Homo sapiens: one gene and its partners. The protein of the gene in region 3 interacts with the protein of the main gene of each other region in a pairwise test. Each region holds a gene or a part of one and is shown on either strand. Other genes may lie near its edges. The genes, in order: TAX1BP1, RAB3IP, TRAPPC6A and GOLGA6A.

Evidence for each region.
Region 1: the proteins of TRAPPC6A (region 3) and TAX1BP1 interact in binary tests that used the Homo sapiens proteins (3 or more experiments, as listed by UniProt).
Region 2: the proteins of TRAPPC6A (region 3) and RAB3IP interact in binary tests that used the Homo sapiens proteins (3 or more experiments, as listed by UniProt).
Region 4: the proteins of TRAPPC6A (region 3) and GOLGA6A interact in binary tests that used the Homo sapiens proteins (3 or more experiments, as listed by UniProt).

What each region holds. Positions count from the first base shown.
Region 1 is NC_000007.14:27,743,132-27,750,173, reverse strand, and holds part of TAX1BP1 (tax1-binding protein 1), read right to left. Parts: intron 1,657-7,042; 5' UTR 1,650-1,656; coding exon 1,488-1,649; intron 1-1,487.
Region 2 is NC_000012.12:69,741,838-69,748,879, reverse strand, and holds part of RAB3IP (rab-3A-interacting protein isoform alpha 1), read right to left. Parts: intron 1-7,042. UniProt on the Homo sapiens protein: Guanine nucleotide exchange factor (GEF) which may activate RAB8A and RAB8B. Promotes the exchange of GDP to GTP, converting inactive GDP-bound Rab proteins into their active GTP-bound form.
Region 3 is NC_000019.10:45,162,419-45,168,265, forward strand, and holds the end of TRAPPC6A (trafficking protein particle complex subunit 6A), read right to left. Parts: intron 2,777-5,847; coding exon 2,709-2,776; intron 2,553-2,708; coding exon 2,435-2,552; intron 1,830-2,434; coding exon 1,746-1,829; intron 1,592-1,745; coding exon 1,498-1,591; exon of another isoform or gene 1,492-1,497; intron 806-1,491; coding exon 774-805; 3' UTR 515-773; downstream 1-514. UniProt on the Homo sapiens protein: May play a role in vesicular transport during the biogenesis of melanosomes.
Region 4 is NC_000015.10:74,069,350-74,072,585, forward strand, and holds the end of GOLGA6A (golgin subfamily A member 6A), read right to left. Parts: intron 2,961-3,236; coding exon 2,869-2,960; intron 2,308-2,868; coding exon 2,205-2,307; intron 2,122-2,204; coding exon 2,018-2,121; intron 1,929-2,017; coding exon 1,775-1,928; intron 1,689-1,774; coding exon 1,561-1,688; 3' UTR 508-1,560; downstream 1-507.

The DNA of each region.
Region 1 (7,042 bases), on a different chromosome or scaffold from region 3:
CTGTTACTACAGAAAACATCAGTTCTCAATCAGTATCTTTAACTTGATACCAGTATCTCCCATAAAATCGAAACTACTACTGAGGCCAGGTGCGGTGGCTCACACCTGTAATCCCAGCACTTTGGGAGGCTGGGACAGGAGGATCACTTAAGCCTAGGAAGTTAAAACCAGCCTAGGCAACATAGTGAGACCCTGTCTCTACAAAAAATTTTAAAAATTAGCCAGGCGTGGTGTTGTGTCTATAATCCCAGCTATTTGGAAGGCTGCGGGGAAAGGATCACTTGAGCCCAGGAGGTCAGGTTGCAGTAAGCCACTATCCCACCACTGCACTCCAGCCTGAGTGATAGAATAAGACCCTGTCTCAAAAAATAAGAAATAAAATTTAAAAACTACTCCTAATTTCATAAAATTGTTACAATGAATGTTTCTCCATTTTGGGATTTGACAAGCCTAAAAAACTGACACAAAAAGTAAACAGTAAATAACTATTGTGTTGTATTCAGAAACATCAAGAAATGAGGAATTCAAAGAAAGGAACTAAGTCATTAAATGCCAAAATTGTTTTGTCCAAATGTTTTTCTGCCTTCCCGTCAGGCTGGACTTTTACTTCTAGACACTTTCAATGTGCCTAATTTCTAGCAGCTATTCATTTCTTTCTTCCTTGTTGTTTAACTTTATACAGATTAGACAATCAAAATTTCAAGCCCATAAAAATCTTAACTAAAATAAAACAAACTGATTCTGAGGAAGACTACAGAATAACACAGGAGAAAAGTGAATGTGTTTTACTGTTTGGACATTCGTGACATTATTTTGACTGCTCAGAGGACATTCTTATGTTTTGGTTTTCCACTACATTTTGAAGAGTTAAAATTGCCAGAAAAAGTCCTGCACAGTGAGGTGTACCACTGTAATGATCACCTTCATTTTCAAGAAAGTATTATACAAAATCACTGGTAAAATATAAGAACTAGAACTCCTGCCATCAAAGAGTTTACTATTCAGTCATGTTAAACAGAATACTTTAAAACTGTGTAATACAAACAGAATACTCTTAAAACTGTGTAATACAATCTGAGCAATATTTAAGCCATGCAGGACAGTAGAAGGGATAATAACATGGCTGTCAAGCTGTATAAAATTAATTTCAAATGACTGGAAAAAATGGTAAATAATATAAGAACCCAAAGAAAAAGATCTTTTTTTATTGCAGGTAATGAATGGAGAAAATAGGAAAAGAAGATTCTGAAAAAATTTTCACAAGTCCTTAAGTGAAGGTAAACTTTCTGATCAGGGAGAGGAAAATCTGGTGAAATGGAGTTCCCAACATCCATTTTATCTACTCCCCACTGTTAAATATTTCATGGTGATGTTTACAAAAATGAGTCTTAATGCAGAGTTAAGGCAAGTAAAAGCTACTTATCAATCTGTTTTAAAAGAAAATTTTAAGTGTTTACATGGAGAACATATTCAGAAAGCTTTCTTACCTTGAATATACCAACCCAATCTTTTGGATGTGGATGAATATATGGAGTTAAGGTGTAATGACATTCCAGGTGTGCATTAGGAAGGTAACTCTTGGCCACATTTTGAAAGATGACATGGGCAAAGTTGGAAGTCTGCAATGGGACTTCTTGAAAGGATGTCATTGTGAATCTGAAACAAGTAATTCATACAAGTTAAATTATACCAACTAAGAATAAACTTATGCCTTCAGAAAATACATAATATTTAATATAAGTTTCATGAATATTTGCATGTCATAATTAAGAAAATATATACTTTGTAAATACTGGAACTTCTTAAAAATTGATTAAATATAAAAATACAGACAAACTGGAAAAATAACTAAAACCCATTTGGCTCAGAAAGTTATATGGGCATTTAAAAGTTAAAAAACCAAAACCAAAAATTAACTCTCCTGGAAAGCCTAGCCCTCTGCTTCTATTTAAATCAAAAGCAAATGAACCAGAGGTGTTTTTGTGCACACGCTGCCAATATAAACCTGCTGGCTCCTAGTAACAAACACTAAGAAACAGAAACAAGAACAGTTAAAAGTCAGTATTTTACTGGCTATGGGTCAATTAACATTTCCTTCCTATGTAGAACCCTTGGGCTTCATCATTCTCCTCCCTAACCTAGCCCATCCCATTCATCTCTTCCCCTCTCCCTAGGTTTTGGGGTCCTATAACTAAACCTGACGCTAACATCTCTGTGCCTACATTCCTGCCCTTCTAATCCCCTGGACCAGCATTTCTCAACCCTGGTTACACATTAGAATCATTAGGGGCCTTTAAAAAAAAAAAATAGATGACAACAACTTTCTGGGATTGGGGCCTGGGAGTGTGTGCATGTGTGTCTGTGGGTGTGTATACGAATATACATAGCCCTGCCCCTACATCGCCCCAAGTAATCTCAATCCTGTATGCAACCAGAAAAGAGAACCACTATCCAACAACTTCTACCTCTCACTCATTTCCACAGATCCCAGACCCAGCCTGTCTTCTTGGGCTTCTGTTACAAGCTTGTTCAAATCTCTCAAACCATGTAAAATCTTAGCTGGTCTACTTGAAATGGCTCAGCCTATTTGTTCTTCTCCACCTATAACAAACCTATCATTTCATCATAGGTCCAATCAATGATCCTACCTCAACTTCTAGTATTCACGTACCCTTTCCACATGTTTACTGATTAAAATAAACTTATATTTAAAAATAAAAATAAAAGTGTAGTGTTAATAAAATACACACTGTTGAAAATCTCTTAGAGATTCATGAACGCTCACTGGCTTAGTAAACACCAAGCACTGGATAGCAGATGAATGGTGAAAGCAGATTATAAAAACTGCAAGATCCAAATGTTTTCCCTATTTTGTGCTCTACTTTTGAGAAAACAGAAACAAATGAGGATTTACCCAAAAAAGCAATCTGTAGAGTTTGTCACAGGCTCCGTACAATCACTAATTCTACAATACACATAAGAAACTATGACTGTCCTGACTGCACTTGCTTGAGTCATTAAAACAGGCATCTCTGTAATAATGGGGAAAACTGGGGCAAGGTTTTTGCTAACCAAATTAATCTAATTTACTTCACAAATCAATGAAGTTTCTACAGAGCAAGCACAGCAGTAAGGCTCTACTCATATTTTAGCCATTAGTAAGAAGGCTTATTGCTAAGATCTAAAACAGTGTGCTTTTACAACTGTTTCTTTTGCTGACCTGTTTGAAATACTAAGGCAAATTTTTAAAGTTTTGTAATAATAAGCACTTTAAAAAATATCAACTTTCTTCTTGTGTCCCCTCTGCTTCTGTTATGGCCAAAGTCCTGCTTTACTGAATATAATGGATATCCCAAAAAGAGACTGTCAATCATGAACCTGGAAACCACTGTAGAGTATCAGGCTAGTTGTCAGCCTCTCCCTACCTGAGGTTTGCAAGCATTCCAAGATAAAGAGTATATTCAGTAGCAATCCCCCTTTACCTCTGCACTAATAAAGGGACTTTGCTACCAGCAACCATATTTCATGGAAAGACTTAACTATGAATACTCTCTACCTGGTAACCTAAAGCCATCAGAAAAATGAACAGGTAGCATTTACAAACACTGGAGAACTCTGCCTAAAATAACTGAAGAGTTTTATTATTTTGTTTCTTTGAGTTGTCTGAGCTAATTTGGGCTCCCAGGGAGGTCATGATACTAATGAAGTCATTAATGATTATCTCAAGTCACTGGCTTCACAAAGGAAAAAAAAAAAAACACCAATTCCAGTTCTTTAAAAAAAAAAGAAAAAAAAAAAACTCACTACTGGTTACAAGACACCAACAAAAGAAACTATAGCTAAATCAACAGAACCAACATCTATTAGATACAACTACCAAAACTGAATTAAGAGAATAATATTTTTCTATGAAGTGAGTGAATAGTCACGCTTCCTTTAAGAAAGATATTCAGTAAGAAGGAAATAAACTAGCTTAGAATAAACGTCCCATGTTTTTAATCAAAAGCTGATTAAGGATAATACTTTTTTCTTAAAATTTAACATATCATTTCCTAAAATAAATTAAACCAACAAAGCTGTAACTATTTTTTTTATAAAACAAGGCAAAAGTGTTTCAACTTCTGTTAACCTCAATTATAACAGTTTTTTAAAAACCCACAATCCAACCTTATACTTTTAGTTCACTGAAGTTTTTGAGGTACAAAATAGCACATAGGTATACATATATGTATTTGTATATGTTTACAAATGCATCAAAAGGAACTCAAGAAGTATACACTATAGAGTTAATAGTCTTATAAGGGATGTGTGTAAAAAGAAGACTTAAGGACCTTAAATTTTACATCAATTTATTGTTTGAATTTTTACAAGTATATATAAATGTATTATTTCTATTGTTTTAAATAGCCCTATTAACAAGAAATTCCATTTTTAAACCCTCCCCTGAATTTCACATTTTCTAATAGAAAACACTAGTATTTCACTTTAAAATATAGTATTCACAATGGTTACAAGTCTGAAAAGTAAAATAATTTGTGATTATCCTATTAATGGCCTTCATTAATCTCTCTCCAACACTCCAATCTTTTTAAAATTTCATTGCTATAATTATAGAAATATTTTACAAAAGTCATTCCAGTACCTTGTCATTTTTTACTCTTATTAAATTACAATATAGCTACTAATCATTTAAAAAGTTTACATGGATGAATGCAATCAAATATAATTATGTCATTATCAACCCATTTTAAATAATAAAATTTCTAATTCCCACATAGTTCCTCTGGTTCACTCCTCCTACAGATAACAGACTTAGGCAAGCTTACAAAAATGTTGGAATTCACTGAGAATGTCAAGGTCGCACGGGAGTGGAGAAATAATATGCAAAGTCACTGCATCACCTTGTGGTAATGCCTGGGAAGTGTAGCTTCACTAACATCCTGAGAAAAAGTACAAACCTCCTCTCAGTTGGAGAGAAGTACACTCCCTACACAAAAAGGAAAGTAGAAGCAAGCAGCTTTACCATGTCAAATTCTGATTCCCCTTCTCTAAAGTGCACCTCTACAAACAGGAGTATAGTAAGTAGGCAAGCCAAGGATAAGTATGAAACGTCCAGTCAACAATTAAGGGGCCAGACACATTTGGCTGGGAAACAAAATCAGAAATGCTTATACATGCTGGCTACAGTGCCCTCTTCCAGGTTTCCTACTACACTTCCCCAAGTTCCAATGCCTCTAGAATTTCTTTATGTGTGTTATGCTGTAAACTGTATATTATAAAGTCTTTGGTCTAAATTCCAATTTTATTATTTTGCGAATGCATTAATGTCTATAAAAAAGATAAATAATATATAGTGGGCACTCAGTTATGTATACAGCTAAAATAAACATGGGGTGGGGGCAGGGAAGCATTTCAATGTTATCTTTACTTACTCCTCTTGTAACTTTTTCAAGCCCAAAGCAGATTTGACTTTTGTGGTAGTATTTTTCCAGTGGTTCCCAATACTTGTTTTACTTTAGCCCAAAAATGTAAGCCTTAGTGAACTTACTGAAAAATAGACCATAGTAAGAACTTCTGTACATTAAACATATGAAGCCAAATTAAGCTTTTTAATTTAGATAAATACTAAATATAATTTGCCAGTCCTAACAATTAGAATTCAAAAATAAGGTAATTTTGTTATGTGTGATAATATAATTATGGTGATTCTGTGTTTTTCTAGTCTTTATCATTTAAAGATACTAAACTAGGCCGGGTGCGGTGGCTCACGCCTGTAATCCCAGCACTTTGGGAGGCCGAGGCGGGCGGATCACGAGTTCAGGAGATCGAGACCATCCTGGCTAACACGGTGAAAACCCATCTCTACTAAAAATACAAAAAATTAGCCGGGCGAGGTGGCAGGCGCCTGTAGTCCCAGCTACTCGGGAGGCTGAGGCAGGAGAATGGCGTGAACCCTGGGGGGCGGAGCCTGCAGTGAGCTGAGATCACGCCATTGCACTCCAGCCTGGGTGACAGCGAGACTCCGTCTCAAAAATAAAAAATAAATAAAAATAAAAAATAAAGATACTAGGCCGGGCGCGGTGGCTCACGCCTGTAATCCCAGCACTTTGGGAGGCCGAGGCGGGTGGATCATGAGGTCAGGAGATCGAGACCATCCTGGCTAACAAGGTGAAACCCCGTCTCTACTAAAAATACAAAAAATTAGCCGGGCGCGGTGGCGGGCGCCTGTAGTCCCAGCTACTCGGGAGGCTGAGGCAGGAGAATGGCGTGAACCCGGGAAGCGGAGCTTGCAGTGAGCCGAGATTGCGCCACTGCAGTCCGCAGTCCGACCTGGGCGACAGAGCGAGACTCCGTCTCAAAAAAAAAAAAAAAAAAAAAAAAAAAAAAAAAAAAAAAAAAAAAAAAATAAAGATACTAAACTAACTGTAAGTGAAATGTCTTGATGTCTAAGATTTGCTTTAAAAACTCCAGGGGAAAAAATTAATGTTAGAGGGGGTAATAAAACAAGATTAGTAAAGTGTCGGTTCATTTTACTGTTCATTCTCCTTTGTGTATGTTTGAAAATTTCTGTAATAGTAAAACCAAAGCAAATAAAGAAATGAAACAGATTAGTAACACTCCACATATGACCCACTGTAGCAGAAACACTGCATTTTAGAATATGAACGCTTTGTACCCTTAGAAGTGTTGTAATTCAGGTAATGGTTGATAGAGTTACTGAAAGTTTTTCACATCTTCAGCTAAAAAACCTTTAGAATTATCTCCAAACTTTAATCCGATAGGACACACAAACATATGAAAGGAAAAAATGTCCAGCATTCAAATAGTTTCCAATTATTCACACTGTGGCTCAAAAAAAGAAAGACTAACAACTCTCAACAGACCTCTGCTCCCAAAAAATGTAATCAGCAATTTTTCTAGGAGGCAACAGCAAAAGCCCCAGTCTATTAATTTGCACCCTTGCAGACATCCCTATTTCCAGAATCCTTTACACCTGAGTGCCAAGACATTCCGCCCAGGTATCACCCGCACCACTTTTATT
Region 2 (7,042 bases), on a different chromosome or scaffold from region 3:
CCAATCTCACTGGTCTGAAAATCTTTTGCCCTTTAAATACATAGAAGCTTTAAGATTTATTTCACATACGTCTTTATAAGAGTAAAATAAACTACTATTTTTAAGCAGTAGTATCTTTCGCATTAAGCAATGAGTGATTCAAAAAGAACTAATTTCAACTGATTATCCCAATTAGTAAATTAAACTTGTCAAGGATCATGACCAATATGTAAAAAAGATGATCACATTAAATTCTTATGGGTGAATCACCAACACAACTTGGCTGGCCTTATTACTGAGCTCCAGGTAATAAAGCAGACTGCAGACCACAAGAAAAAGTTGATCAAAACAATTTGCTTCTGATCCCTAATATGCATTTCCTGTTAATTTTTCTTTCTCGAAATCAGTACTATCACAGCAAAAACAACAGCCAATCTTTACTGAAGGTTAACTATGTTGTCAGATAGTGGTGCTAAGAATTTCATACATATTAACTCATTTAATAAATGCCTAGAAAGATCCTAATAACTTATGAAATTTACTTTTTCTAATTAAAGTGAATTTTTAAAATGTTTCTTGAAAACAAAAGCCATCCCTAGGACAACTCAAGAAATCAGAATTAATGGGAAAATATTTTCAATGAAACATCTGAAGAACATGAATAAAATGCATATACATATTTTAAATGAAATCTAGCAACTTGATTTATATCAGTAGTCCAAAAGAAAAAATAAAATCCATTTTTCCACAAAAAGCACATTCCCCTAATTTGGACTTACCTTGACAAATGGGAAACATAGAATTTTAATTTTAGAAAAAAAAAAAAAAACTAAAGCTGTGATTTTTATCTTTTTTCATATCAATTTAATATATGTGAAAATTAAATAATTTGAATTCTATGTTTACTAAAATTCCTCAAAGCACTACACTCAGAAAGTAAATCATTTCCAACAAAGGAGGTAATATGGCAACACAGCAGAGTAGAAGCATCAGTACCTGAAGAAGAAAGCTAAGGCTCCTGATCAAGCTCTGAGATCTATCTATGAACCTGGGCAGGTAACTTATCTGAGCCCAAATATCTTCATCTATTTCAGTGTAGAATTGGATCAAATAATCCTGGTAGATAAAGGAATGTACTTGTCTACTAGAAGAAAAGCCAACAGGGTAACTTAACCAGTATTCACTATCTCATGAAATAGCTTGTACTCTGGAATCAGTCTCAAATCTTGGCTTCACCAGTTACTAATAAAGTGACCTGAAGATCTAAGTCTCAATTTCTCATCTAAAAATGGAGATGACAGGTCAGGCACAGTGGTTCTTGTAATCTCAGAACTTTGGAAGGCCAAGACAGGACGGTTGCTTGTGCCCAAGATGTTTAAGCAACAACCAAAAGCAACATAGCGAGACCCCATCTCTACAAAAAATTTAAAAATTAGCAGAGTGTGGTGGCATACGCCTGTGGTCCCAGCTACTCCTGAGCCAGGAAGGTTGAGGCTATAGCGAACTGTGATTGTGCCACTGCACTCCAGCCTGAGCAACAGAGAAAGATCCTCTCTCTCTCTCTCTCTCACACACACACACACACACACACACACACACACACACACGAAAGGGCAAGGGGAGAAAACTGTACCTATCTCCTAAGGTAGTCATGAGAATTAAAGAGCTTAGCACCATATCTGGCACTTACCAATTAAGACTGGCTCTTACTATTATAATCATCTCTAGGACATTTCCTAATACTGGCCAAATATTTTGATCATATTGTATCAGCACAAGCACTATCACTAAGAACAAAAAGCAATGATTGTTGAGTTTGGGTTTAAAAGCTTATTGTTTTGAGTGATTTTCCTCAAAAAAAGTAAACATCTATAAATCCTGTAGTATAATTTTGTTTTACTTGTATTATCACAATAATAGAAATTAAATATTCCAAGACATGTCAAAAGAAAAGGTTTAAGATTATGTAAGCACTATTTTCCTCTTTCAATTTATTCACAGACAGTTGTGGAAGGGGGGCAGGGAGGAAAGTCCAGATGCTTTTTAAATTCCCAAATGACTTCTTAATTTAACATGAATTATGAAAGAAACAGTTTCTGAGATTAAAAATGAGACTGCTACTTCAATAGCATATAATGAATTGAACTGTTATAAATTCCATGAATTAGTTACAAATTCCATCACTTCTTTAAAAACCTTCAACATTTATTATACATATTAAATACATTTATTTCATACATATATGTGATAAATTATATTTATTCTTGTTGGAATGGAAGGATGATTGCCAGCTTCAACACCTCCGGGCAAATCCTGATACTAAGTGCTAAGAATACAGATACAAATGGACCAAAGAGATGGCACACAGCCTCTACGAGCCACGGCATGATTATTCTGAGGGTTGTGGGGAGGGAAGAGGGAAGAGGAGAATGTCTCAAAGAGAAGTAAAATATAAGTCAGATTTTCAGTGCTGAATACAAGTCCAGTAGATGGGCAAGGGGAATAGGATAGGACAGTCAGGGAATAAGGGTCTGGCACTAACAAAACTAACAAAGGAGACAGTAACAGAAAAGCAGGCTGGAGAGGCAGACTGTGACAGACCATTAAAAGCCTTCTTTAAAAGAGAAAATGTTGCTTAAAGTTTATCCTGAAGAGATGGTGAGATCTACATTTTAGAAAGTATAGATGTATTGTAATGTAGTCATTTAAAAATGACTCCCAAGGCAATGAGAACTTCACTGGAGACTAGAGGCTGGTTAAACGATTACTGTCTGATCTAATGCCAAGGTCATGCACTGGGAATGAGGGGATGGAGGCATATATACGTATGGAAAACATTCAGAACAGCTTCATTTATATTTATTCACAAACACACAATTATTCCAGTTAATCTTCAGAGCATTCATTTGAAATGGTTCTTATCCCTACTTTACAGATATATAAAAAAAAGAGGCTGAGAGAGATTAATTTTGTCAAATACACAAAAAGTAACAGAGCTAGTATTCAAACTCTGGTGTGTCTGACTCTAACACCTAACTCCACTACATCTGAGATACACTTAGAAGCTGAAATGGATAGGGAGTAGGGAGATGGGAATAAAGGTTAAAGCACAGCAAAGGATCTCTAAGAAGTGAACAATCCTGGGTGCAGTAAACCACCATGGCACGTGTATACCTATGTAACAAACCTGCATGTTCTGCACATGGTATCCCAGAACTTAAAGTTTAAAAAAAAAGAAGTGAACAATCCAAACAGAATAATAATGTTTAATCTCTGAACCCTTCTCTTACTTTCACAAAGACAAAACTGAAGTTTCTCTAAAGCACTGCTATTGAAATGAGCATTTGCTATTGCTTTGTGTTCTATTATTTTCCCCTATATTATTTTTGTTATCATTTCCTCCTCTGTTTTGTTACTATGCCAGAATTTAATACTTATTCAGCTCCTTACAGGACTTGGAAAAAAAAAAACAGCACATAAATCAAAATAAACAGAAACTTGAATTTACTATAGTACCCATATTCCTGTGTATTTTTTTAAAAAGTGTAGATATTTTATACCAAGGAATTAGTGTTAATTTTTGAAAATTTGTAATAATAAAAGCAGGAAATGTAGATTAAAATGAAAAAATAAATAAAGAACAAAGTTTGTAAAAGTACTGCAGTTAACTGCTCTTATCTTTGGGAAATACTGAAATACCTACAGGTGAAATTACACAGGACTTGCAATTTGTTTCAAAATAATATAGAAGTGGGAGAAGTGGATGGATGAGGACTGATCACTGTTGATAGTTACTGGGCTACATGATGGAAACTTTTAGGTTCATTATACTATTGTGTCTACTTACCTTATTTGAAACTCTCCATAATTTATAGTGCTCTCAAAATAAAAAGGAAAGTTCAAAATTTATTCAAATACTGTATAATAAAGGAGGAAAAAACAAAACAAGTATATATATAAAATCATTTTTTCATTAGCTTTCATAATAATTTTAAAGTTGGCTTCCCAAACTAGCATTTTAGTTATGACAAAAAAAATCACATTTATCTTTTAAGAAGCATTCTATGTTTATAAATGCAAATGTAATTAATAGCCCAAGGGCAAAATTACTCAAATGGTCAATCAGGCTACACAATTTTCCCATTTTTATTATAATAGATCACAAATGAATTCCCACTAATTCCACAATACTTTTTTTTTTTTTTTTTTGAGATGCAGTCTCGCTCTGTCGCCCAGGCTGGAGTGCAGTGGCACAATCTCGGCTCACTGCAACATCTGTCTCCTGAATAGCTGGGATTACAGGCGCCTGCCACCACACCCAGCTAATTTTTTGTATTTTTAGTAGAGATGGGGTTTTGCCATGTTGACCAGGCTTGTCTCGAACTCCTGACCTCAAGTAACTGTCTGCCTCAACCTCCCAAGTGCTGGGACTACAGGTGTGAGCCACCATGCCCGGCCTAATTCCACAACACTTCAATGTACAACCTGACATGTGTAGAGATGTTAGTTATTGCAGTGTGTTATGTTGACAGTTTTCAGAAAATGTTCTGAACTTATGAGCTAATATTATATTTAATTACAAATAATTATTTGTAATAATACAATGAGCTAATATTTAATTACAAATATTTATTTGTAATTAAATATTTATTTAAATTAACAGAACACCGCATGTTCTCACTCATAAGTGGGAGATGAACAATGAGAACACACGGACACAGGGAGGGGAATATCACACACCAGGGCCTGTGGGGGAGTGGCGGGCTAGGGGAGGGATAGCATTAGGAGAAATACCTAAGGTAGATGATGGGTTGACCGGTGCAGCAAACCACCATGGCACGTGTATACCTATGTAACAAACCTGCACATTCTGCACATGTATCCCAGAACTTAAAAGTATAATTTTTTAAAAAAATCATTTTCCAAATTTCTTTTTCTCAATAATGGAAGCTTCATTTTACATATTCTCTTAAGAATATATGCCAACTAAACATTCAACAGGTGCTGAAATACGCACTGACTAAATAAATAAACAAGAGTCTTTAGAGAAGGAATGAATAGCAAAGCGGTAAAGAGTGGAGACAGTTATTCAGGCTACATTTTTGCTGAAAAAGATAGAAATGAAACAGTAAATACTTTGCGAGAGTATCAAAACTGGAGAAATTGAAGTTTGAGAAAACCTGAGCATTTTAACAGACTAACTTCAGAAAACCTTCCTTCTAGTTCAGATTCTGTCACTGACAAGCTGTGTGAACTGACGCAAGTCATTTAATCTCTCTAAGGTTCAGTTTTGACATCTATAATGGTAGTGATATTATCTCCCCTGCCTACATTTGAGAAAATCAAATGGCATATCAATGTAAAAATGTATACATTGTAAAGCACAACATAAATGTATGATTTTATAAAGATCTAAGAAAGAAAAAAATGTAATGGGGGAAATAGCAAAAGCATACTGAGGGGTTTGTCTTACAAATCAGAAGGTATCTTTATTTATCTTAGGTAAAAGGAAAGAAAGGGAAAACTAGTCTTTATGAGGCATGTAGTTCAAATATGATTCTTTTCCCCACAGGGAATTGATACAAATTTGCTTATTGTTTTTTCAAACTTATTTTGGTTTTTCTTTTATACTTTATCCTTATCTGACAACCAGATGCTCCCAAACAAATATTCAATACTATTACTTTTATCTGGGCATATCAAATTACAATTCACTTATTTAAGTGGTTCTAAGCTATCATCTATATGCTCCTTTATGCTCATAGGGCATTCTCACATTCTTGAATAGTTTCTTCATACTAAGCTGTCAATTCATATACTTATTTGTGTATGTATCCATACCCCTCAGAGGAATTTCATCAACTGCCATTATGATTATATTTACAATCCTACTGTTAACGACAAGCATCAAATCTTTCATGAACTTGAACTATTTGAATAATTTTCATTCTTTTTCCTCTAAGTAATATCAGTTTACGGCTATAGTTATCTAATTTCGTGTTGCCCTATATTCTAAGATAAATCAGATTACTTTTTCCACTTTTCTCTAACCATGACTATGTACGATGTAAGCTTATAAAACTACCTCATTTAGTGGTAAGTTGAAAAGGAAAGCAGAAGGGAAAATAGAGATAGCAAGTTAATGCTCCCAGTTGTATAAATATCTTCCTCTTCCTTCCTTTGTCCCTTCATTTCTCAATGTTCATTTCAATTTCTACTGCTAGAGCAGCTTCAAAACATCCTAACATTCTTCAACTGATCATCCATCACCAAACACAGCACAGTACTTACCTGGCCCGATGTTAAAGCTATAAAATGAGGTAAGCCCTACTCTCGAAGCACTTGTAGACTAGAGGAAGAGACCACCTTGCCAATAAACATGTTTCTAGGGCCCTAGAAACAATTACAAATACAACACAAATATCAAAGTTCATAAATACCAAAAAAGAGGTACTCAGTATTATAAAAGCATAAAATTTTTAAAAAGAGTACCATCTGGTACAACTAAGGATAGTAGCATAAAAAAGGAGAAACAAGCTAGAAAGCAGTTTACAAAAGCTCAGATATTTTGTTTTTAGGATATCAAATGCGTAGTAACCAATTTACTATCCTTTGATGAACTGCATCTTAATCAGAATTATATCGGAAAAAAGTTTAGTGTGAAAAAGCGTACTCCCTTGGAATATCTTCAAAGCTTTCCCTCATTACCTCAATGCACAAATATCTCTACCCACTATCCATCTGTCCTTCCTCTCCACTACTCAACTATCCTAGCACTTTGTCTTAGTTGACATTCATTAAAATATGTAAAGTGCGTTCTACATTTTGAAGAACTTATAAAAGATATGGGAATGATTATAAGGCCCTACCTTCCATATTCCTTAAGAACAGTTTCCTTTAACCCCTACTGTGACTTGCAGAGTAGATGCTCAATGAGTATTTGATTTAAAAAAATCTCTGGTGACACAATGAGAATTACATATTACATTAACATTACGTATCTCATAAAAGCTAAATTACAAAGTTCTTCAGCATTATAAGCTACACATAAAGAAGTGATAAT
Region 3 (5,847 bases):
GGGCAGCTCTGAGCCTGGGGCACTTACCCATGTCAGGCAGCGGGCGGCGAAGCCCAGGAGTCCCCAGATGCTACAGATGCGAGCGGGGTGGGAGGGGGCAGCATAAGGGCCACTCTGCCCAGGGACGGGCAGCAGGAGTGCGTAGGGGCCGCGTGTGTCCATGGGGGTGTCTGGCCTCCCCCTACCCCATGCATCCCCAGCCCTGGCAGCCCCAGCCCGACCTGGCCTACACTCCGGGCACTCCCAGCCCTGCTCCCCAGGAAGACGCTCCGTTCTGTGCACATCGCCGGGCAGAGGGCAGCCCCAGACTTGTTGACTTGGCAGAGGTGCCAGTAAGGCCGCCCATGCCGGAGGCCAGCATCCCTCTGCCAGGAGCACGGGGAGGGAGGGAGTGGAGGGGGACGTGGCAGGGGAGGGAAGGTCTGAGGGGCATGGGAGCCAGAGAGGGTACCCACTCCCCTGCAGGACCTGTGACAGTCGGTCCACAGATCCTCCCCCACTGCTCTGAGTCAGATTCCACACACACAGCCTTTATTGAGCAGCTACTGGGCAGTGACGCTGCCGAGGCGGGAATCCCACCACAGTCCTGACCGCAGCTGGGACCCCTTTGCCTCCTCTGACACCCCCACCTCAATTTGATACCCACTTCCTGAGCAAATGTGACCCCTAGGGCCTGGGATTCCCAAGACCACCCCGAAATGCAGCGGCCCCACCGTCTCCTGAGGCCGGTGAGGCCAGGGGCAGCAGTGCGGCTCAGCAGGTGCGAGGCAGGCTTAGGATTTCGGAATCACCACCTGGAACTTACCTGGAAGAGAAGGCCTGGCTTAGGCTTGAGGATGGGATGGGGGAGGCAGAGGGCACCTGGACGGCTCTTAGGCGCTCACCCCCGTCCTGCACTGACACCCCAGTGGCTAGGTTGGGCTGTTTCCTCCCGCCCACGGGGCCGCATCCCTGAGCTGTGTGAGTAACCAGGAGCATGAGGGCCACGGATGTGGCCCCAGGGAAGCGCCCGGCACGGGCTTCTGTGGTATGCATTGCTCGGTCCTACCCCACGGGGGCCCCGGGGGCCCCCATGAGTGGGCCTGGGGAACCGGCAGAGGCAAAATAACTGAAGGTGGGGGAGGTGGTGGGGCAGGCTGTCCCCAGGCAGGAATGGGGCTCCAGCTTGTCTGACAGAGGACACCCAGTCAGGCAGGCTGCAAGTTCCCTGGAGCCTGCCGTCGCCCCCATCGAAGGATCAGTGAGGATAACTTCTATTGCGTCCACCTCGGCTCCCATGCTGGGAAACGATGTTCAAAACCGCCAGACAGTTCTCTCTGCAGGGCTGGCGACGTCACGGAGCCAGGGGCACAGATGGGCCTGCACCAGCCGTGTGGCTGAGCAGGTGACTTAAAACTGGGCCTGCCTCCCAGGCACACACACAGGAGTGGGGCTGGAACTCTGAAGCCCCCAGCAACTCAAGGGATGAGAAGAATCCCCCCACCCCCCATGACTCACAGACGGGCAGGGCTGCCACGGAGGCGGTGACCACGCTCTCAATGCCCAGGGTATAGAGGGCGCCGCGCAGGAGGCCGCAGGTGAAGGCCAGGAACTGAGGAGGGAACACAGACCAGCATGGGAAGAGAGGGGAGGCCAGCACCCGAGGTCTGGGGCACCCCTTAGGCCTGGGGAAAGGCCTGATGTGGGATGGGGCTGGGTAAACAGGAGGAAGGGAGGTGTGGACAAGGCCCCAGCTCCCCCCATACCTTGGGTGCTTCCTCCAGATACTGCAGGCCAGAGGCCATCGGGAGGAGGAGGGGGAAGCTGTTGTCTTGCAGGACGTAGGTCCCCTGGGGGAGAGGAGAGGCTGGTGGGTGGGGTCGGGGCCTGTACATTTGAAGCGCAGGGAGGGTAAGCAGGAACCCAGGTCTTAGATTGGGCTGAGGTTGGGAAGGCCCCCTTCCTGAGAACCACTGGAGTCACAGCCTTGGCCTCCAGTGCTCTGGTAGGGCCCAGGGCTTCCAAACTTGGAGTGGGTGCCTGTGCCCTGGGGAGTGTGGGTCCTGCCCTCGCCTCCCAGGGTTGTGCAGAAAAGCTGGGGACCCGGCCCAGGAAGATGCAGAAGGGCAGGTACAGCCTGGGTGTCACTGGGGGACTAGACCAGCTTGGGACAAGCAGCATCACACTGGGGGTAGGGCAGGCAGCCACCAGGGGCTTTCTGCCCATGCATGGCTCACTCCTGGTAGGCTGGAGAAGTTCCGGAAACACCCCCTATGCCCCAGCGCAGCCTCCTGGCTTCCCTTAGAGGATCAGACAGAGCAAGAGCTGCGGCCGCCTGTGGGAAAGCTCTGGGCGGGTCCCGGCAGCCGCTGCTCTGGCGCCGGGGGATTCCCCTCCCACTCTCTTGGTCTTGCCCTCAGGAGGAAGCTGGACGGGCAGGCCGGGGTGCTCCCACCTGGTGATTGGTGCGCAGGCTGTCCATCTGCTTCTGGAACACCGCCACCCACAGGTCTTTGCACAAGAACTTGAGGACATCCAGCTCCTCCCTGAAGGCCAGCGTCTCCCGGGGCAGCCTGGTGGGGCAGTACCAAGCTGAGGCCGTGGGGCCAGGCCAGGAAGAGGGAGGAAGACAGGCCCGACTCCTGCATGGAGCAATGCAACCCTCCCCGCCCGGGGCCTGCCCAGCCCTGCCAGCCAGGCTGGGGGAGAGCAGGAGGGGCCGCGCTCACCTCTCGCCTAGAGCCTGGCCCACACGGAACCCCATACCCTCCAGGACCGACAGGCTCATCTTCTGTCCCTAGAAGGCCAGGGGAGAGATGCTCAGGGGCCCTTAGCCACCACGAACCCGGGGCCACCCAGGGGGGGACCTGCCAGGGGACCCAAAGACCAACTTGCTGGTGCTCGTCAGTTCAGGGGTGAGCAGGGAGGGGCTCTGGCACAGCCCGGCCAGGGCAGGGGCAGGCCTCTAGGGTGCTGGGGCTCCCTCACCCACCTCTGCAGACCTTGCAGGCTCTCTGGATCCCCAGATCATCAGCCCCCAAGAACCAGCTCCCCCTTCCCTCAGGAACAATGGGGGTCTTCCCCAGGCTCCCTTCCTCCTCCATGACTTTTCCTGATAACCCCCATGACAGGCTGCACGTGCTTTCAGCGCGAACCCTCACAATGCCCTGGGAAGTGGGCGCTGCGACTCCACCAAGATGCTCCAGGTGACCTGCCCAAGGGCTGGAGGCTGGGCCACAGGAAAGGGGGCTGTGGAAGTCAACCATGATCATCATGCCTTATAATATTGGCCAAGATCCCTGGGGAACACGTGGAAGCTCGGGACAGGCAGATCTTCGTTTGGGTGCTCGAAAAGGACAGTGGCTGCCATGTAGTGTCTGGAGGGTAGGCCAGGGTCCATACAGGAGGGGACTGTGCTGGCAGAGGCAGGCCCCAGGTAGGAGGGCTGCACTCGGTGTCTGTCCACGTGCCTGTGTGTGTGGAGGGCATGGCTGGAGGAGAGGAGATGCTCATGGATTTTTTTTTTTTTAAGAGATGGAGTCTAGCTTCATTGCCCAGGCTGGAATGCAGTGGCCCAATCTCTGACTCACTGCAACCTCCGCCTCCCGGGTTCTAGCAATTCTCCTGCCTCAGCCTCCAGAGTAGCTGGGACTACAGGGATACGCCACCACACCCTACTAATTTTTTGTATTTCATTAGAGACAGGGTTTCACTGTGTTGCCCAGGCTGGTCTCGAACTCCTCAGCTCAGGCAATCTGCCCGCCTCGGCCTTCCAAAGTGCTGGGATTACAGGCGTGAGCCACCGCGCCTGGCGAGTTTTCTTTTTTGGAGACAGAGTCTCACTCTGTTGCCTAGGTAGAGTGCAGTGGTGCAATGCTGGCTCACTGCAACCTCCGCCTCCCGGGTTCAAACAATTCTCCTGCCTCAGCCTCCCGAGTAGCTGGGATTACAGGCCTGTGTGCCACCACACCCGGCTAATTTTTGTATTTTTGGTAGAGATGGGGTTTCACCATGTTGGCCAGGCTGGTCTCAAACTCCTAGCCTCAAGTGATCCGCCCGCCTTGGCCTCCCAAAGTGCTGGGATTACAGGCAAAAGCCACTGCACCTGGCCATGGATCTTTTTTTTTTTTTTTTTCATTCGGGTGTTTTGCTGCAAGCAGAGGAAGGGAGGAGGCCCAGACTGGGGGGCACCAGAAATCCCAGGACGGCTGGGGCGTGAGGCGCCAGGTTTTTCAGAGAAAGCCTGGCAGAGCAGAAGTGGGGGAACAGAGGCGGCAGGTGTGCAGCCCTGAGCTGAAGGAAGCTCACCCTCCCGCTGGCTGCTCTCAGGAGCCTGCAGTCACCAGGCCTGAGCCCTGCAGCCCTCCCTCTCCTGCCCTTGACCCCCACCTTCCCTTGGGAATGGCAGCTACCGCCTCCTCCCTCCAGGGCTGCACCATCAGCGCAGCCATCCGAATGGGGATGCGAATTCTCTGCTTGGCTCCAGCCCTGGAGCGGGTCTCCCAGCCTGGAGAGCGTGTCCGAGGAAGGCTTCTTGCAGCCTGCGGGCCCAGCTGCCTCCATCCCTCCCTCACCCTCTCCTCTGCCCCCTGAGGACATTCGCTCAGACTTCTGAGCCTTTGTACCGACTTCCTTCCCTTCCTCCCTCCCAGCTTGCGTCCCCAGCCCTGCCCACTGCACACTGTCCCTGGATGAGGACACAGCTCTGTGAAGGTGGGGACCCAGGCTGACCAATTCACATCCGGCCTTCAGCAGCCAACACAGAGCTTGGCATGTGGGTGGTGCTTAACAGACTGGCTGATGAGACAACGTGCATCAACAAAGGACACCGTAAGTCCTTACCTAATGCTGTCAACAGGCTCTTGGAAACTATGGCTTTAAGCAAAATGACATATGATGAAACCAATTTCACGCAGGTTAATTAACATAAACAAGAGTGAAGTTCCAATGCCATATTTCTGGTACAAACACATCACCAAACTTCTAAATAAGGATGAAAACACTTGAAATATTAAACACTGAAATAAATGTGAGCTATACATACGTTTAAGAAAGATTAGGCCGGGCGCAGTGGCTCACTCCTGTAATTCCAGCACTTTGGGAGGTCGGAGTTTCGCTCTTGTTGCCCAGGCTGGAGTGCAACGGCGCGATCTCAGCTCACCACAACCTCTGCCTCCCGGGTTCAAGTGAATCTCCTGCCTCAGCCTCCCCAGTAGCTGGGATTACAGGCATGAGCCACCACGCCCGGTTAATTTTGTATTTTTAGTAGAGACAGGGTTTCTTCTCTTTTGGCCAGGCGGGTCTCGAACTCCCAACCTCAGGTGATCTGCCCACCTCGGCCTCCCAAAGTGCTGGGATTACAGGCGTGGGCCATCGCGCCCAGCTGAGTCCAGGAGTTCGAGTCCAGCCTGGTCGACATGGCGAAACCCCTTCTCTACAAAAAATACAAAAGTTAGCCAGGTGTGGTGGCATGCACCCGTGTCCCAGCTACTTGGGAAGCTGAGGCAGGAGGATCATCTGAGCCCAGGAGGTCGCTACTGCAGTGAGCCATGATCATGCCACTGTACTGCAGCCCAGGCAACAGCAAGACCCTGTCTTTTTTTTTTTTTTTTTTTTTTTTTTTGAGACAGAGTCTCGCCCTGTCGCCCAGGCTGGAGTGCAGTGGCGCAATCTCGGCTCACTGCAAGCTCCGCCTCCCGGGTTCACGCCATTCTCCTGCCTCAGCCTCCTGAGTAGCTGGCACTATAGGCACCCGCCACCACGCCCAGCTAATTTTTTTGTATTTTTAGCAGGGACGGGGTTTCACCATGTTAGCCAGGATGGTCTTGATCTCCTGACCTCGTGATTCACCCACCTCGGCCTCCCAAA
Region 4 (3,236 bases), on a different chromosome or scaffold from region 3:
ATATTTCACTCTTTGTGAAGAACTTTGTGAGGAAACATAAGTCTGTCATTGTATAGACACTTTTTCTCATAATACTTGGACATTCACAAACATTAGATTGCACTGCAGCTTGTAAACATTTTAAGTTGCATAAACTTCGCCTTGATTTTCATGTGTAGTATAATACTGTCTACTAAAACTCCTTTTTGTTTCAACTAAGTACTCTCACATATATTGGTTTATAATAATGGTTGTTATTATTTTTAAAGTGTTTTCCATTCAAAGAAAAGAAGTAAATTCCTATGTCAGAGTAACTAATGTGGCTGAAGAATAGGTATTAGCCAGAGAGGTCTAGATGATAAAATCAATCTTCTAGCCTCAAAGAAGCTCCATGAACATAGAGGAAGGCCAGGTGTCACACAGCTTTCCTTCACTCGAATTCATTCTTGACTAGAGCCTGTATGCCTCTTCCAGGGACATTTAAACTCTTAAAGGATTTCTTATGATCTTCACTAAATACCTTAAGAAGAATGCCAACCAGTGCCCTTTTGTGTACTGGGACATATACTCGTGATTAAAACAGGTAACATGAACTCTGACTTTAAAATGTATTGTAGATATAAATGCTCTAAGCTAGAAAAGGTTTTCCACATCCACAGTCAATGATGGGAGCCTTTCATTCCTCAGAAATAATCCCTTTTTAGGTCATCAAGAAAGGGTACAACTGCTGCAGCTCATGATGCAATATCTTCATGAGCCCAGAGCACATACAAATCCTAAGGGAACTACCATAGTACAGCGCTCATTCTTGGCACCAGAACAAATGAAACACACTCTATCCTGCACACACCTGCCAGAGCAGGCCACTTTCCTCTTCTGTGAGATTTAAAAAGCTCCCCAAAATGTTATTACTCCCATCCCCAATACACAGAAAATAGGGAAAAGGCTGTTTCCAGTTCTTGGCCTTTAAACAACTCTAAATGTCAGTACTCACAGTGGCATATTACAAAGTAATAAACAGTGCTCAATTGAGGGCAAACCACATATTGAGCTAATGAAGAGCTCACTGTGGTTAGGATTCGATCAAACGTAATAGCAGAACATAAGCACATTTTATCTGAATTCTGGAATGAATATACATGCTGCAATAACATTAAAAAAGCATGGCAGCCTGTTCCAAACCAGCCAGAATAGTTTTGTGCAAATTAGTGGGTCTTTGTGTGTTTGAATTCCCACCACCTAAGGGCAAACTCGATATGCATACTAATGACCTACAATTATCAAATTAAAAATAAAAATGCTAAAGGATGCCAGAAAGAACATCAGGGAAAGACCAACTCTCCCTTAACTTTTTACAAATAAATTTAAACGGTAAATTAGAAACACAAATAAATGTGAGTGGCTCTAGCATTCAAATGGAGTAAATGAATTGTGTAGGAGATGAACCCCGTAACTTTTTGTTGTTGTTGTTGTTTTAAATTTCTTGACCAGCTCTTAGAAGATGATGATGTTTATCTCCCTGTTCTCGGCTGCCTGGTAGAAGAATGGCACGCAGGGTTTGCTGGGCAAGCCTGGGTGCTCCTAGGTGTCCTGCATGACAGGAGACAGCTGCACGATCTGCTGTACAGTGGGGTTGTCATGGGGAGAACCCTCCCTGGCCGCTCCTGGTGCAGGCTCCACGTTGTTGTCCAGGCTCACTTCATAAAAAACTTCGGAGAGAGGGAGGCGGGGGTCTGAGCACAGTGCGAGCCTCCCCTGCCCCTGCCTGCCCACCCCGCCTGAGAGCTCTACTCACCATCCTGCTCACCGGCAGCCCCAAGTTCCTGGGGGGCTGGGGCCCCTGGAGTGGGCTCATCAGCAGGGTTCTGGGCAGCGATGAGGAATTTGCCATGCCCCTCATGGTTGCCCACAAGGGGCAACACCAACTCTTGCAGCTCCAGCAGCTTCACCTGAAGGGAGGGGTGCTCAGCTCCCACCCTGGAGCCTGCACCAGCGCCCATGCCCACCCCCAACCCCGCAGAGATGTTGCACGCCCTACCTTCATCTCCTCCTCCTTCTGGGCCAGCCTGATGACATCCTCCATCTCCTGGTGCCGCGTGTTTGGCACTGCCCCCTGGCTTTCATATACGGTGAAGGACTCTCCTGTGAGAGGACACAGCTCAGACACTAGGGTCCCTCCGACGGCCCTGCAGCTCCCCGTGCCCGTGCCCTGGCCTCCCGCTCACTCATGCCGTCTGTCACTCCAGAAGGCTGGACGAATCCAAGCTCTCGTCTCTCCACCTGCTCCGTCCCGTCCGCCTTCTCCTTCGGGAGGTCCATAAAGCTGCTCTGGAGCCAAAATAATGGGGTCACATCTCGGGAGTGACCTGTTCTGCCCCGCCCCCACTTTTCTTGGCCCATGCCAGGACTCACTCCCTTTCAGCTTCACCATGGCCTCCTTCAGGGCCCGGTAGCTCTCCCCACACACAAACTCACCCCCACTCCCTGGGGCTGGGGCCTCTGCCTCTGGCTCCTTCCAGGCGAAGGCCAACAGATGAGCCAGGTGCAGGCAGCACAGCCTTCACACCTTCCGCTGCCCACATAGCCGTGCCTGCTCCTCCTGGGAACTGGCTCCAGCAGAGGTGAAAAATGCCACTTGAAGGCAAGAGGTGAGTATTCTTGTAGGGGCATAGACAGAACAAATGAGGCAGGGAGGTGGAGAACAACCCCTTCCCTTGGGGCCTCAGAGAGTGCACCTGTTGGTCACAGGTGACAAAGTGTCTGACCACTGGCTCCCGGAAGGGGTGAGGGGCCAGAGCAATCAGAAGGTGGGAAAACCAAGAGCATAAGGGGGTCTGGGAGGGACCACAGAGGAAGGTGGCAAAGCGGGGCAGGGAAAGTCAGGCTCACCGTGGCCTCCCGGCTCTCCAGGTCCTCTGGGATGTTTGGCGTGGGCCGAGGCGCCTCCTCCTCCTCACTGTCCAGATGTTGTCCTCCATCTCCTGTAGGGAGGTGGCCAGAGGGGTCCTCAGACAACCCAACAAGGGAGGTACTGTGGGCCCACCTCTGTCCCCACCCTGACTGTGTAACCCTGAGCCAGCCTCTCCCCAGAGGGGAGTGAGCTGCTGTTCTTTATTTTTCCTTTTAAGAACCAAGATCTTGCTATATTGCCCAGGCACAGTCCCACTACCGGTCGGTGCGGGAGTCCTGACCTGCTCCCTTTCTGATCTGGTCCAGTTCATTCATCCTTAGGCAACCTGGTGGCCCCCTGCTCCCAG